Homo sapiens: one gene and its partners. The protein of the gene in region 1 purifies or fractionates together with the protein of each later gene. This does not show direct contact. Each region holds a gene or a part of one and is shown in the gene's direction. Other genes may lie near its edges. The genes, in order: TSNAXIP1, LZTFL1 and USO1.

The links.
Region 2: the proteins of TSNAXIP1 (region 1) and LZTFL1 purify together in Homo sapiens (affinity purification with mass spectrometry; one large-scale study listed by BioGRID and IntAct). This does not show direct contact.
Region 3: the proteins of TSNAXIP1 (region 1) and USO1 purify together in Homo sapiens (affinity purification with mass spectrometry; one large-scale study listed by BioGRID and IntAct). This does not show direct contact.

What each region holds. Positions count from the first base shown.
Region 1 is NC_000016.10:67,823,755-67,826,251, forward strand, and holds part of TSNAXIP1 (translin-associated factor X-interacting protein 1), read left to right. Parts: intron 1-828; coding exon 829-1,025; intron 1,026-1,382; coding exon 1,383-1,518; intron 1,519-1,912; coding exon 1,913-2,082; exon of another isoform or gene 2,083-2,141; coding exon of another isoform or gene 2,142-2,162; coding exon 2,163-2,322; coding exon of another isoform or gene 2,323-2,397; coding exon 2,398-2,497. UniProt on the Homo sapiens protein: Possible role in spermatogenesis.
Region 2 is NC_000003.12:45,825,073-45,828,729, reverse strand, and holds part of LZTFL1 (leucine zipper transcription factor-like protein 1), read left to right. Parts: intron 1-114; coding exon 115-291; intron 292-1,270; coding exon 1,271-1,374; intron 1,375-2,397; coding exon 2,398-2,416; 3' UTR 2,417-3,657. UniProt on the Homo sapiens protein: Regulates ciliary localization of the BBSome complex. Together with the BBSome complex, controls SMO ciliary trafficking and contributes to the sonic hedgehog (SHH) pathway regulation. May play a role in neurite outgrowth. May have tumor suppressor function.
Region 3 is NC_000004.12:75,727,480-75,731,136, forward strand, and holds part of USO1 (general vesicular transport factor p115), read left to right. Parts: intron 1-3,657. UniProt on the Homo sapiens protein: General vesicular transport factor required for intercisternal transport in the Golgi stack; it is required for transcytotic fusion and/or subsequent binding of the vesicles to the target membrane.

The sequences.
Region 1 (2,497 bases):
CGCCTGTAATCCCAGCACTTTAGGAGGCCGAGGCGGTAGATCACTTGAGGTCAGGAGTTTGAGACCAGCCTGGCCAACATGGTGAAACCCTGTCTCTAGTAAAAACACAAAAAAATTAGCTGCGCATGGTGGCACACACCTGTAATCCCAGCTACTTGGGAGACTGAGGCAGGAGAATTGCTTGAACCTAGGAGGTGGAGGTTGCAGTGAGTTGAGATCACACCACCGCACTCCAGCCTGGGCAAAAGAACAAGACTCCATCGCAAAAAAAAAAAAAAAAAAAGAATGCAGCTCCCCTCCTTGTCCCAGCCTGGAAGGGGTGGAGAAGATCCTATTCGACCTTCTGGTGCTCCACAGCAGGGCTGGGGCAGCTACCAACTGGGCCTTGAGGTCACCAAGGCCCCTCAGCCATTCTGCACAGACTGTTCCATGATAGGGCACCCCAGAGCACCTGACAACACCTGTCATTGAGAAGCACAGGGGGGCAGTCCCTGTTGAAAATGGAGTGAACCCCAGGAGAGAGTCAGCACCTCTGGGAGTCAGCAGGCTCCCCTGCCAGGCTCAGGAGGTGCAGGGCATGGTGCAGCTGCAGGACTTAAGGCTGTAGGGGAAAGGACATAGGAGAGACCCCGGTCTTCATCTGAACTCTGCCCTTTGTTTAAAATCAAGTGCAGGAAGGCCTGAAACAGGGACCATGGCTTTGAACAAGGCATGCAGAGATTCTTGGGGTTTGCAAGCGACATAGCCACTCACCCATGACCTTAGGGTGTCTTCTGGCTGTTTGTTCTCCATGGCCCCAAAGCAGCTCTCCCACCTGTCTCTGCTTAGCCCACCAAAGGGAGAAGATTCGGGCTCTGGAGCCCCTGAAGGCCAAGCTTGTCACTGTGAATGAGGACTGCAATGAGAGGATCCTGGCCATGAGAGCTGAGGAGAAATATGAAATCTCCCTGCTCAAGAAAGAGAAGATGAACTTGCTAAAACTCATCGACAAAAAGAATGAGGAGAAGATTTCATTGCAGAGCGAGGTGAATGGAAGTGGTGTGATGATGACCAAGTCCCCGAATTCCTGCCAACTCCACGACAAGGGTGACCCCCTACCCTGCTCTGCCTTTCTACGGAGAGTGACACACTGAGCCACCACCTTCCCCCAGAGCCTTGCTAACTCCACCCTCTGCCCTGCTGCTAGGCTCAGTACTTTCCCCACAGGGGGAAACATTGGCACCTTGCCGAATTCTCAGAAATGGCCAATCTCCTTCTTCTTTCACCTTTCCTGTTCACAGTCCCTGATGGGGCCCCCCAGAACCCAGCCCACTCCCTGGGGTGACCAGCTGCATACAGGGGTCCAGGGGCAGCCCCTGACCACACAGCCACCTTCTTGCCAGGTGACCAAACTGAGGAAGAACTTGGCTGAGGAGTACCTGCACTACCTCAGTGAGCGAGATGCCTGTAAGATCCTCATCGCAGACCTGAATGAGCTGCGGTACCAGCGGGAGGACATGTCATTAGCCCAGTCGCCAGGTAAGCCTGAATTGGGAATCGGGTTTCTCTCTTCTCTGAGACGCTGGAAGACTCTGGTCTCACCCCTAAGCCCCATTCATTCAGCATTCCTAAGACCTGCTCATTCCATAACCATTCAGAGGGGAGATGTCCCTGCCTCCCGCAGGGCTGTGTATCTTCTGAGTTGAACTGAGAATTGTAGGAACACAGTTGGTAGCTGAGGCAGCCTAGGCTCCCAGTGGGCTGGACAGGCCTGGTACTCAGTTTCCTGGGCTTCTAGACTTTAGCCTGAAACCCTAGGCTGGTAGTGCTGTGGGCAAGAACCAGGGAACCCCAAACAGGAAGGGCAGAGGGCTTCAGGCAACCCCTGAGAAAGCCACGGTGACACGGGCTGGTGGGCCCCTTCCCCTGGCAGGCATCTGGGGGGAGGACCCTGTGAAGTTAACCCTGGCTCTTAAGATGACCCGGCAAGACCTGACCCGCACGCAGATGGAACTCAACAACATGAAGGCCAACTTTGGAGATGTGGTCCCCAGGAGGGACTTTGAAATGCAGGAGAAGACCAACAAGGATCTTCAGGAGCAGGTGCTGGCAGGCAGGCAGGGCCAGGAGGGTAGGACGGGGTCTCACAGGTGGGGGGCCAGGGCCAATGTCCTTGCCCACAGCTGGACACCCTGAGAGCCAGCTACGAGGAGGTTCGCAAGGAGCATGAGATCCTCATGCAGCTGCACATGAGCACGCTGAAGGAACGGGACCAATTCTTCTCTGAGCTGCAGGAGATCCAGCGCACTTCCACGCCGCGGCCTGACTGGACCAAGTGCAAAGGTGAGGGCAGCCGGCAGGGCCCCAGGTCCTGCTTACATGTGGGCCCAGACTCCAGCTCCCTCTCCCCACATGCAGATGTGGTGGCTGGGGGCCCAGAGCGCTGGCAGATGCTGGCTGAGGGCAAGAACAGCGACCAGCTGGTGGACGTGCTCCTGGAAGAGATTGGTTCGGGGCT
Region 2 (3,657 bases), on another chromosome or scaffold:
GCACACAAAACATACATCATTTTTTTCATCTCCTATGATGTTGAATCACCATTCTAAAACAGTTATTTTTAGAATATCAACATGAAATTACATGCATGCATTTATTTTTCATAGGATTTTATAAAGGCCCAAGACTTAAGTAACTTAGAAAACACTGTCGCTGCCTTAAAGAGTGAGTTTCAGAAGACACTTAATGACAAGACAGAAAACCAGAAGTCACTGGAGGAGAATCTGGCGACAGCCAAGCACGATCTACTCAGGGTTCAGGAGCAGCTGCACATGGCTGAAAAGGTCAGAAGACCATGTTTAAGGGATTTGTCTGTTAATGCATGATTAATGCACACAGTATAGAGGAATACATGTGGCTAAGATAAACGTTGGACAACTGCAAATTCAGATTATTTTTTCTCAAGGTATTAGCCAATATGTTCTAAAGATTAATCATTTCCGGGCACTGATATTCTTCCATCTTTGGTACTAAAATATCTGTGATAATAAGACATCTCCTCTCCCTCTATGGTGTAGTGAAATGCTCCTCTGTAGGTGGCTTGAATCCTGCCCTACATCCCACCATGTTGCTCTTCTGCTCCTTCTTCCCACAGCCTGCAGAGGGATGAGGGACTGTTTTTTTTAAGGACTTCTATACTTTTGTCATAATTTATATAAAATATGTAGAGAGCTAGATTCTTCACTTTGGGGATTAGACTCTTAAGAATATGGGAGTTGAGGCCGGGTGCAGTGGCTTGTGCCTGTAATCCCAGCACTTTGGGAGGCCAAGATGGCAGGATTGCTTGAGCCCAGGAGTTCAAGACCAGCCTGGCCAACATAGCAAGACCCCCATCTCTATAAAAAAATTAAAAATTTTTTCATATAAAAAATGGGAAAAAAGAATATGGGAGCTAAAATTTAACTAAATTAAAAATCATTTTGCTAAAATACACTACTATGGGACTTGGGAAAAAAGTGTGCTTATTTTACAGGAAAATTAGTTTAATATTTCAAATAGATTTATCATATCCAGGGCTTGAGTTATTTACCAACACTGTACTTGGGAAAATGTTACTATTTTATGGCTTCTCATTTGAAAGAATATATTTTTAAAGTTTGGATAGTCTTAGTTTTATATAAATGTGTCCTTTAAGGAAATTAGAAAATCATTAGCAAAATACTAGTAAAATTCAAGCAAAAAAAACTACATATTTTTATCGCATTTGTTATCTCTTTCCTTAACTATTTTTTTAGTAATGGGCTGACATTTTTTACTAAGCAGGAATTAGAAAAGAAATTTCAGCAAACAGCAGCTTATCGAAACATGAAAGAGATTCTTACCAAGAAGAATGACCAAATCAAAGATCTGAGGAAAAGACTGGCACAGTAAGCCACACTGATCCCGCCTTTGGATTTCTCTCTCTGGATTGATGTTTGTTCTCTGTTAAATCTAAGCTTGTTCCAGAGAGGTCAAGCCGGTGGTAGTTGCTGGATCATTTAGTCCAGAAGCCTTCATTTGAGGAAAGTGGAGGAGCTCTGGCCTGACCTTATCTATAATGCCCACCAGGGCTTCTTTTTAGGTTCATCTAGGCCTTTAGACTCACACAGGCCTACAGTAAGCTGCTCTTGGCAATGGATTCACTTAGCAGGATGTCAGACAGGAAACACAGCAAGCTCGCAGGGCAGCATTAGGTAGTTCTCTTCTCCTTGGTGGTATACTCTAAGCAGTCCAAGAACTGGTCTTACTGTTCCCCTAAATGACAGTTTAAGTTGGAGAGAATGAGATTCATGCAGATGGGTGTCATAGCCAGCTTGGCTTAGAAGTCCGTGTTCTACATAGGATTAGTATCTCTCTTAGCAGTCACATGATACCCAGTTAAGGGTATGTCCAGTTAAAAGAACTCATCGCACAGGGGGAAACCTAAAGTGGTGGCTCCCACCATGTATTTATAGTTCATTCATAGTCCTCCAGGTCCAGATGTGGTCATCAGATGTTTTGCCTGGAAACTGAGTTGACATTTTACCTTTATCAGAGTTCCAGGGGAGCAGAGCTAGAAAGGGAATTCAAGGTGAGATTTGTCCTTAGAGAAGTAGATTTGCTAGCCCTTTACTCATATAGTCGTATCAACTGTTCTTGTCAACATGATGATTGAGGTAATTATATGAAGTTATCACAGGTCTAAATGCCAAATATACAGACTTGGAGCCTTAGCAGTGATCTGGCCTATCCTCCTACCTGATGTAAAAATCCCCTCTGAGTCACCATCAAAACAAAGTTGAATGTGTCCAACTTCTACCGTAACAGTAATTTGAAGTGAGAAATATAGTGCCACTGCTTCAAGTAAACTTATTTGGTAATAACAACAACAAAAGGTATCCTGACATTGTGTTCTTAATTTATATCTCCAGATATGAACCTGAAGATTAAAACTGAAGATTTCCTCTGGAAGCTACCACATGCAAACATACAAGCAGTCTCACCTCAGGCATGTATTTTGAAAAGCATTTTGTCATATCCCCTCTCCTTATTTTTCTAATATTTAGACTTTGAATATTTAGAACTAGAGTTCCTATTTTCAGCTAGTTGAAAACAGAGAAAACCTAGTGATTCTGTCTGGTCATCCCACACACCTCTCTACTGAGTGCTCCAGAGTCTTAGCTCACATGCACTGAGAATTCTTTACAGCAAAGAAGAGATTTTTAGAGTGGGAAGAAGAGGCTTATCCTTCTGCATTAGTATAAAGAGTCTGTATTTTTAATAAATGTTAAATAAGCTAACAATGTTTGTACTTATGCATTCCCCATGGGTAAAAATAAATAATAGCATTGTTAAAGATAGTTATTACCAAAAAAAGAGAGTTATTACAAATAAATATGTCTCTTTATTTTTAAAAATGAAATCTTAATTCATTTACTCTATTTGATGATAAACTATAAATTCATTGAAAATGTGAATTCTATTATGGGTAGCCTTTTTACCAATTATAAGGAAAATTTACAGCAGTGAACATGAACATTCACTTAGCTTCCTCAGTCTCTCCATCTTAAAGATCATTTATCAGAGGAGGTTCAGCATTTTTTGCAGCATAACTTTTCATGAGTCTGTATTACTAATGGATAAGTCAAATCCATCCTGCACTTCTACAGTTTAGAAAGTATCTGGACTCAGAATAAATGTAATATTTATACTTGTTTCCAGAATGTTATTTTACATTTTATGTTCAATAAGAACACTTTTTAAAAGACGTATATTCAACATAAAATCAGCTATCAGACTTCAGATTAGACTTTATTTATGTGGGTCTATAATAATTGTATTTTCAAGAGGTTTTCACTATATTTGTATTGGCCTGGTTTTCTCAGACGATTTTGGACAAATCATTAGAAACTGGGCATCATATCCACAGTTATGTAAGGCAGTGATATACTATAAGGATAAACAAAGTCAAGTCCATAAAGCAATAATCCCTCAGAAGGAAAGTCCTTACTTTTCACATATTAATATTTAGTAATTTTTCCTGCTTCTAAAAGTGAGAGTATCACACCCTAAATGAACACTGTCTACTAAGAGACATCATTCCATTTCCACAAATGAAGATTTTATTCCAAGAAACGAGTTTACTGATTGGAGCATAGGGCTTGTTGTTATTTTTATTCAAGCTTTTAGTA
Region 3 (3,657 bases), on another chromosome or scaffold:
TATTCTGAGGTACAGTATGAATAAAATTTGTTTCACTATTTCGTTCCACCAGGAAGTACAACAGGTAAAAGGGGTCATGGATTACTAATTTAGAAGTATTTATAGAGCATCAGTGGAGTGTATATACAATTTTAGATGTTTTAATTGATGATTTAGTCTGGCCAGGATATTTGAGTTACCAGAGCTTGGAACCCCTAGCTTCTATATTATCATTTATTATTTTGTAGTTTTTTCCATTTCTGCAAAATTAAATTTTTTTCATGGTGGCTTTCCATCTTTCTTGCTTTTTCTAACATCTTTTTTCCAATGGAAGGGCTCTTTTCTTTGTCTGAATTAGACCTGTTATTTAAATTCATCATCAGCGCCTCCCCTAATCTGTACTTTCCCCCAGCACGTTTCAGATGCTTTTTCCTTTCTGAGCTACCTTTACATTTTAACTACAGTGTGCATATATCTTATTCCTTCTAGACTCTTAAAGTGTCTTTAGGGCAGGGTTCATAATGTATTTTAATCTTTGTTTTTCCACAGTAGTAGATGCCCAGTAAATACTTGTGAAATGAATTAATTATAGTTTTATTTGAAAGAAATCACAGATCTGTAATTATAGCAACTTACGTTACTAGGTACTAAAACACTTTTTAAAGACTAGAAACTGAAGTTCTCAAATGAAGTTCATTGTGTCAAGCTTTTTACTTAAGGGATTTTTTCATATTTACTAAATGCTTTGACTGCTTTCTTGTTTTTTTTTTTCTTATTGAATTTAAGTATCTTTTAAATGTGTGAGAGTTATGTGATTGATTGTATAGTATCTAGCTTTTCATACTCTTAGTTAAGAGTAACTTTGGACTGATATTAAGATGTTCTTCAGGCCGGGGGCTCACGCCTATAATCCCAGCACTTTGGGAGGCCAAGGCAGATGGAGCACTTGAGGTCAGGAGTTTGAGACCAGCCTGGCCAAACTCCTTTCTGGAGTCAAGCACATTTTTATGGTGAAACCCTGTCTCTACTAAAAATACAAAAATTAGCTGGGCATGGTGGCACATGCCTATAATCTCAGCTACTCAGGAGGCTGAGGCAGGAGAATCGAGGCGGTGGTTGGCAGTGAGCAACCACTGAGTGGTTAAGATTGTGCCACTGCATTCCAGCCTGGGCGAGAGAGCGAGACTGTCTCAAAAAGAAAGATGTTCTTGAGAACCTGTCAAGTAGTAAATATTTTATCATAGGATAGTCAATTCTATAAAGTACTGGATATTTTAAATTCAGAATTTCATCCACATTAAACTTTTTCTGTTTTAGAGTCATGTACTTTTGTTTTTGTTTTTGTTTTGTTTTGTTTTGAGACAGAGTCTCGCTCTGTGGCCCAGGCTGGAGTGCAGTGGCGCAATCTTGGCTCACTGCAAGCTCCCCCTCCCGGGTTCACGCCATTCTTCTGCCTCAGCCTCCCAAGTAGCTGGGACTACAGGTGTCTGCCACCACACCGGCTAATTTTTGTATTTTTAGTGGAGATGGGGTTTCACCGTGTTAACCAGGATGGTCTCGATCTCCTGACTTCGTGATCCGCCTGCCTTGGCCTCCCAAAGTGCTGGAATTACAGGTGTGAGCCACGGCACCTGGCCCCAGAGTCGGGTACTTTTACATTTCATTTCTCTTTTTTACTTGACACTGATTTCTGGTGATTGAAGCCTCTTTAGCCTTGACACAGTTTGCTGGGTGCATATTATTATAGTACAAATCCTACTCATGCTTTTGTTTTTTAGTTTTCTCTTTTTCCCTAACCACTAGACCACCAGGGACTTCATGCTTTTGAATGTAAGCTTATGTGTGCTTAGTGTTATATCTGCCTTCTATCTAGCACCTTTTTTTTGGGTAGGGGGGTGGGGTACGAAGTCTCGCTCTGTCGCCCAGGCTGGAGTGCAGTGACGTAATCTCGGCTCACTGCAGCCTCCGCCTCCTGGGTTCAAGCAGTTCTCCTGGCTCAGTCTCCCGAGCAGCTGGGACTACAGGTGCACGCCACCACGCCAGGCTAATTTTTTTGTATTTTAGTAGAGACAGGGTTGCACTGTGATGCCCAGGCTGGTCTTGAACTCCTGAGCTCAGGCAGTCTGCCCGCCTCGGCCTCTCAAAGTGCTAGGATTATAGGCGTGAGCCACTGCGCCCAGCCCCCAACTTGTACCTTTTTTAAAGCTAGTTTCTTGAAAATTCCAAGCAAGTGTTAACTACATTTGATGATGAATCATAGAGGCATTTTCTGTTCTCAAGTTGGACCCCGAGACATGAAAGTTGCTAATGTCCAGAAAAAGCATACAGAATTAGAACATTGTTATGGGGTCTCTTTCCAGATCAAACTTTCATCAGCTGTCTCAGAAAGCAGAAGGGCTAACAATATAAACACAGCCATATTTTCTTTTAATAAAAATTGTTATTAAAGAGTGTGGACTTAAATTTAGACATAGTTTTCGTTTAGTCAAGCACATTTTATACCATGTTACTATAAATGTGTAGTCTGAAATTCCTATTTGGGTTGATGTATTCTACATTAATAACCAGGTCAATGTCATAACTGGAATGTGTTTTCTCTCTTGGCCTGTTTTGCAATAACAATGTCGGAGAGAACTGTAATAATGATTTGTGTTTTGGTCATTTCTATATCGAAGCACTCTTTTTAAGTAGGGCCTATTGAATACTACATGGCTTTTTGGAAGGTTAATTTTGTAGATTATATAGGGTTCATTTAAAAGTTAGAATCATTTAAATTATACATGCCGTAGCATTACCAAGGTATGCTTCAAAAAATTTGAATAGATGTCCATGAAAAAAATTTTGTCAGCAAAGAAGTGTGTGCAACGACCACTAACAAAGAAAAAACCTCTAGTATTTATGCAAGGTTTTGTAAGCAGGCACTGTGTTATAGTTTCAGATATTTTTAAAATGTAGATAAAAAGTAAGCTGTTTGCCAAATTTATCTGACCAGACCTTTTTTTTTCCTCTAGGGAACTTTGTTATCTATTATTTTGAGAAGCATACTTAGGGAAAAATTGTCCAAGAGGATATATAATTCTGATGCCTTTTTCTTTATTTTCCTTTATTTCATTAAAAACATTACTCTTGAATCTGATTAGGAAAGAATATTAGAATTCCTTATATACATTTGTTGATACCAAATACTGTTCCTCTTTCTTTTTATGTATTTACCTTTTATTATTAATATTACTGCTTTGTACTCTGCTTTTTGTCTGTTGTAGGTATAGTAAAGTTATGCTTATTATTTTTATACCTCAAGCAGAAGTGCCATAAACATTTTTTGTGTCAAAAGTTATTCACCATTAATTTGAAAACTTTTTTTTTTTTTTAAAGAGACAGGCTCACAATATGTTGCCCAGGCTGGTCTTGAACTCCTGGCCTCAAACAATCCTCCTGTCAGCTTCCCAAAGTGCTGGGATTACAGAAAAACTTTTGTGGTGTTAGATTTTGAGATGCTAGCATTTGTGATAGGTTATTTGGTAGACATGTTTCATTATGACCCCTTGCTTAAAACGATGTCCTTTTGAAAAGCATAGTTCATTTATGGGAAAGAGCATGGAGAATAAATGAAGCAGTATATTACTTGGCTGACTTAAGGTAACTATAATGGAAATGGATTCATTGGATTTGTCTACA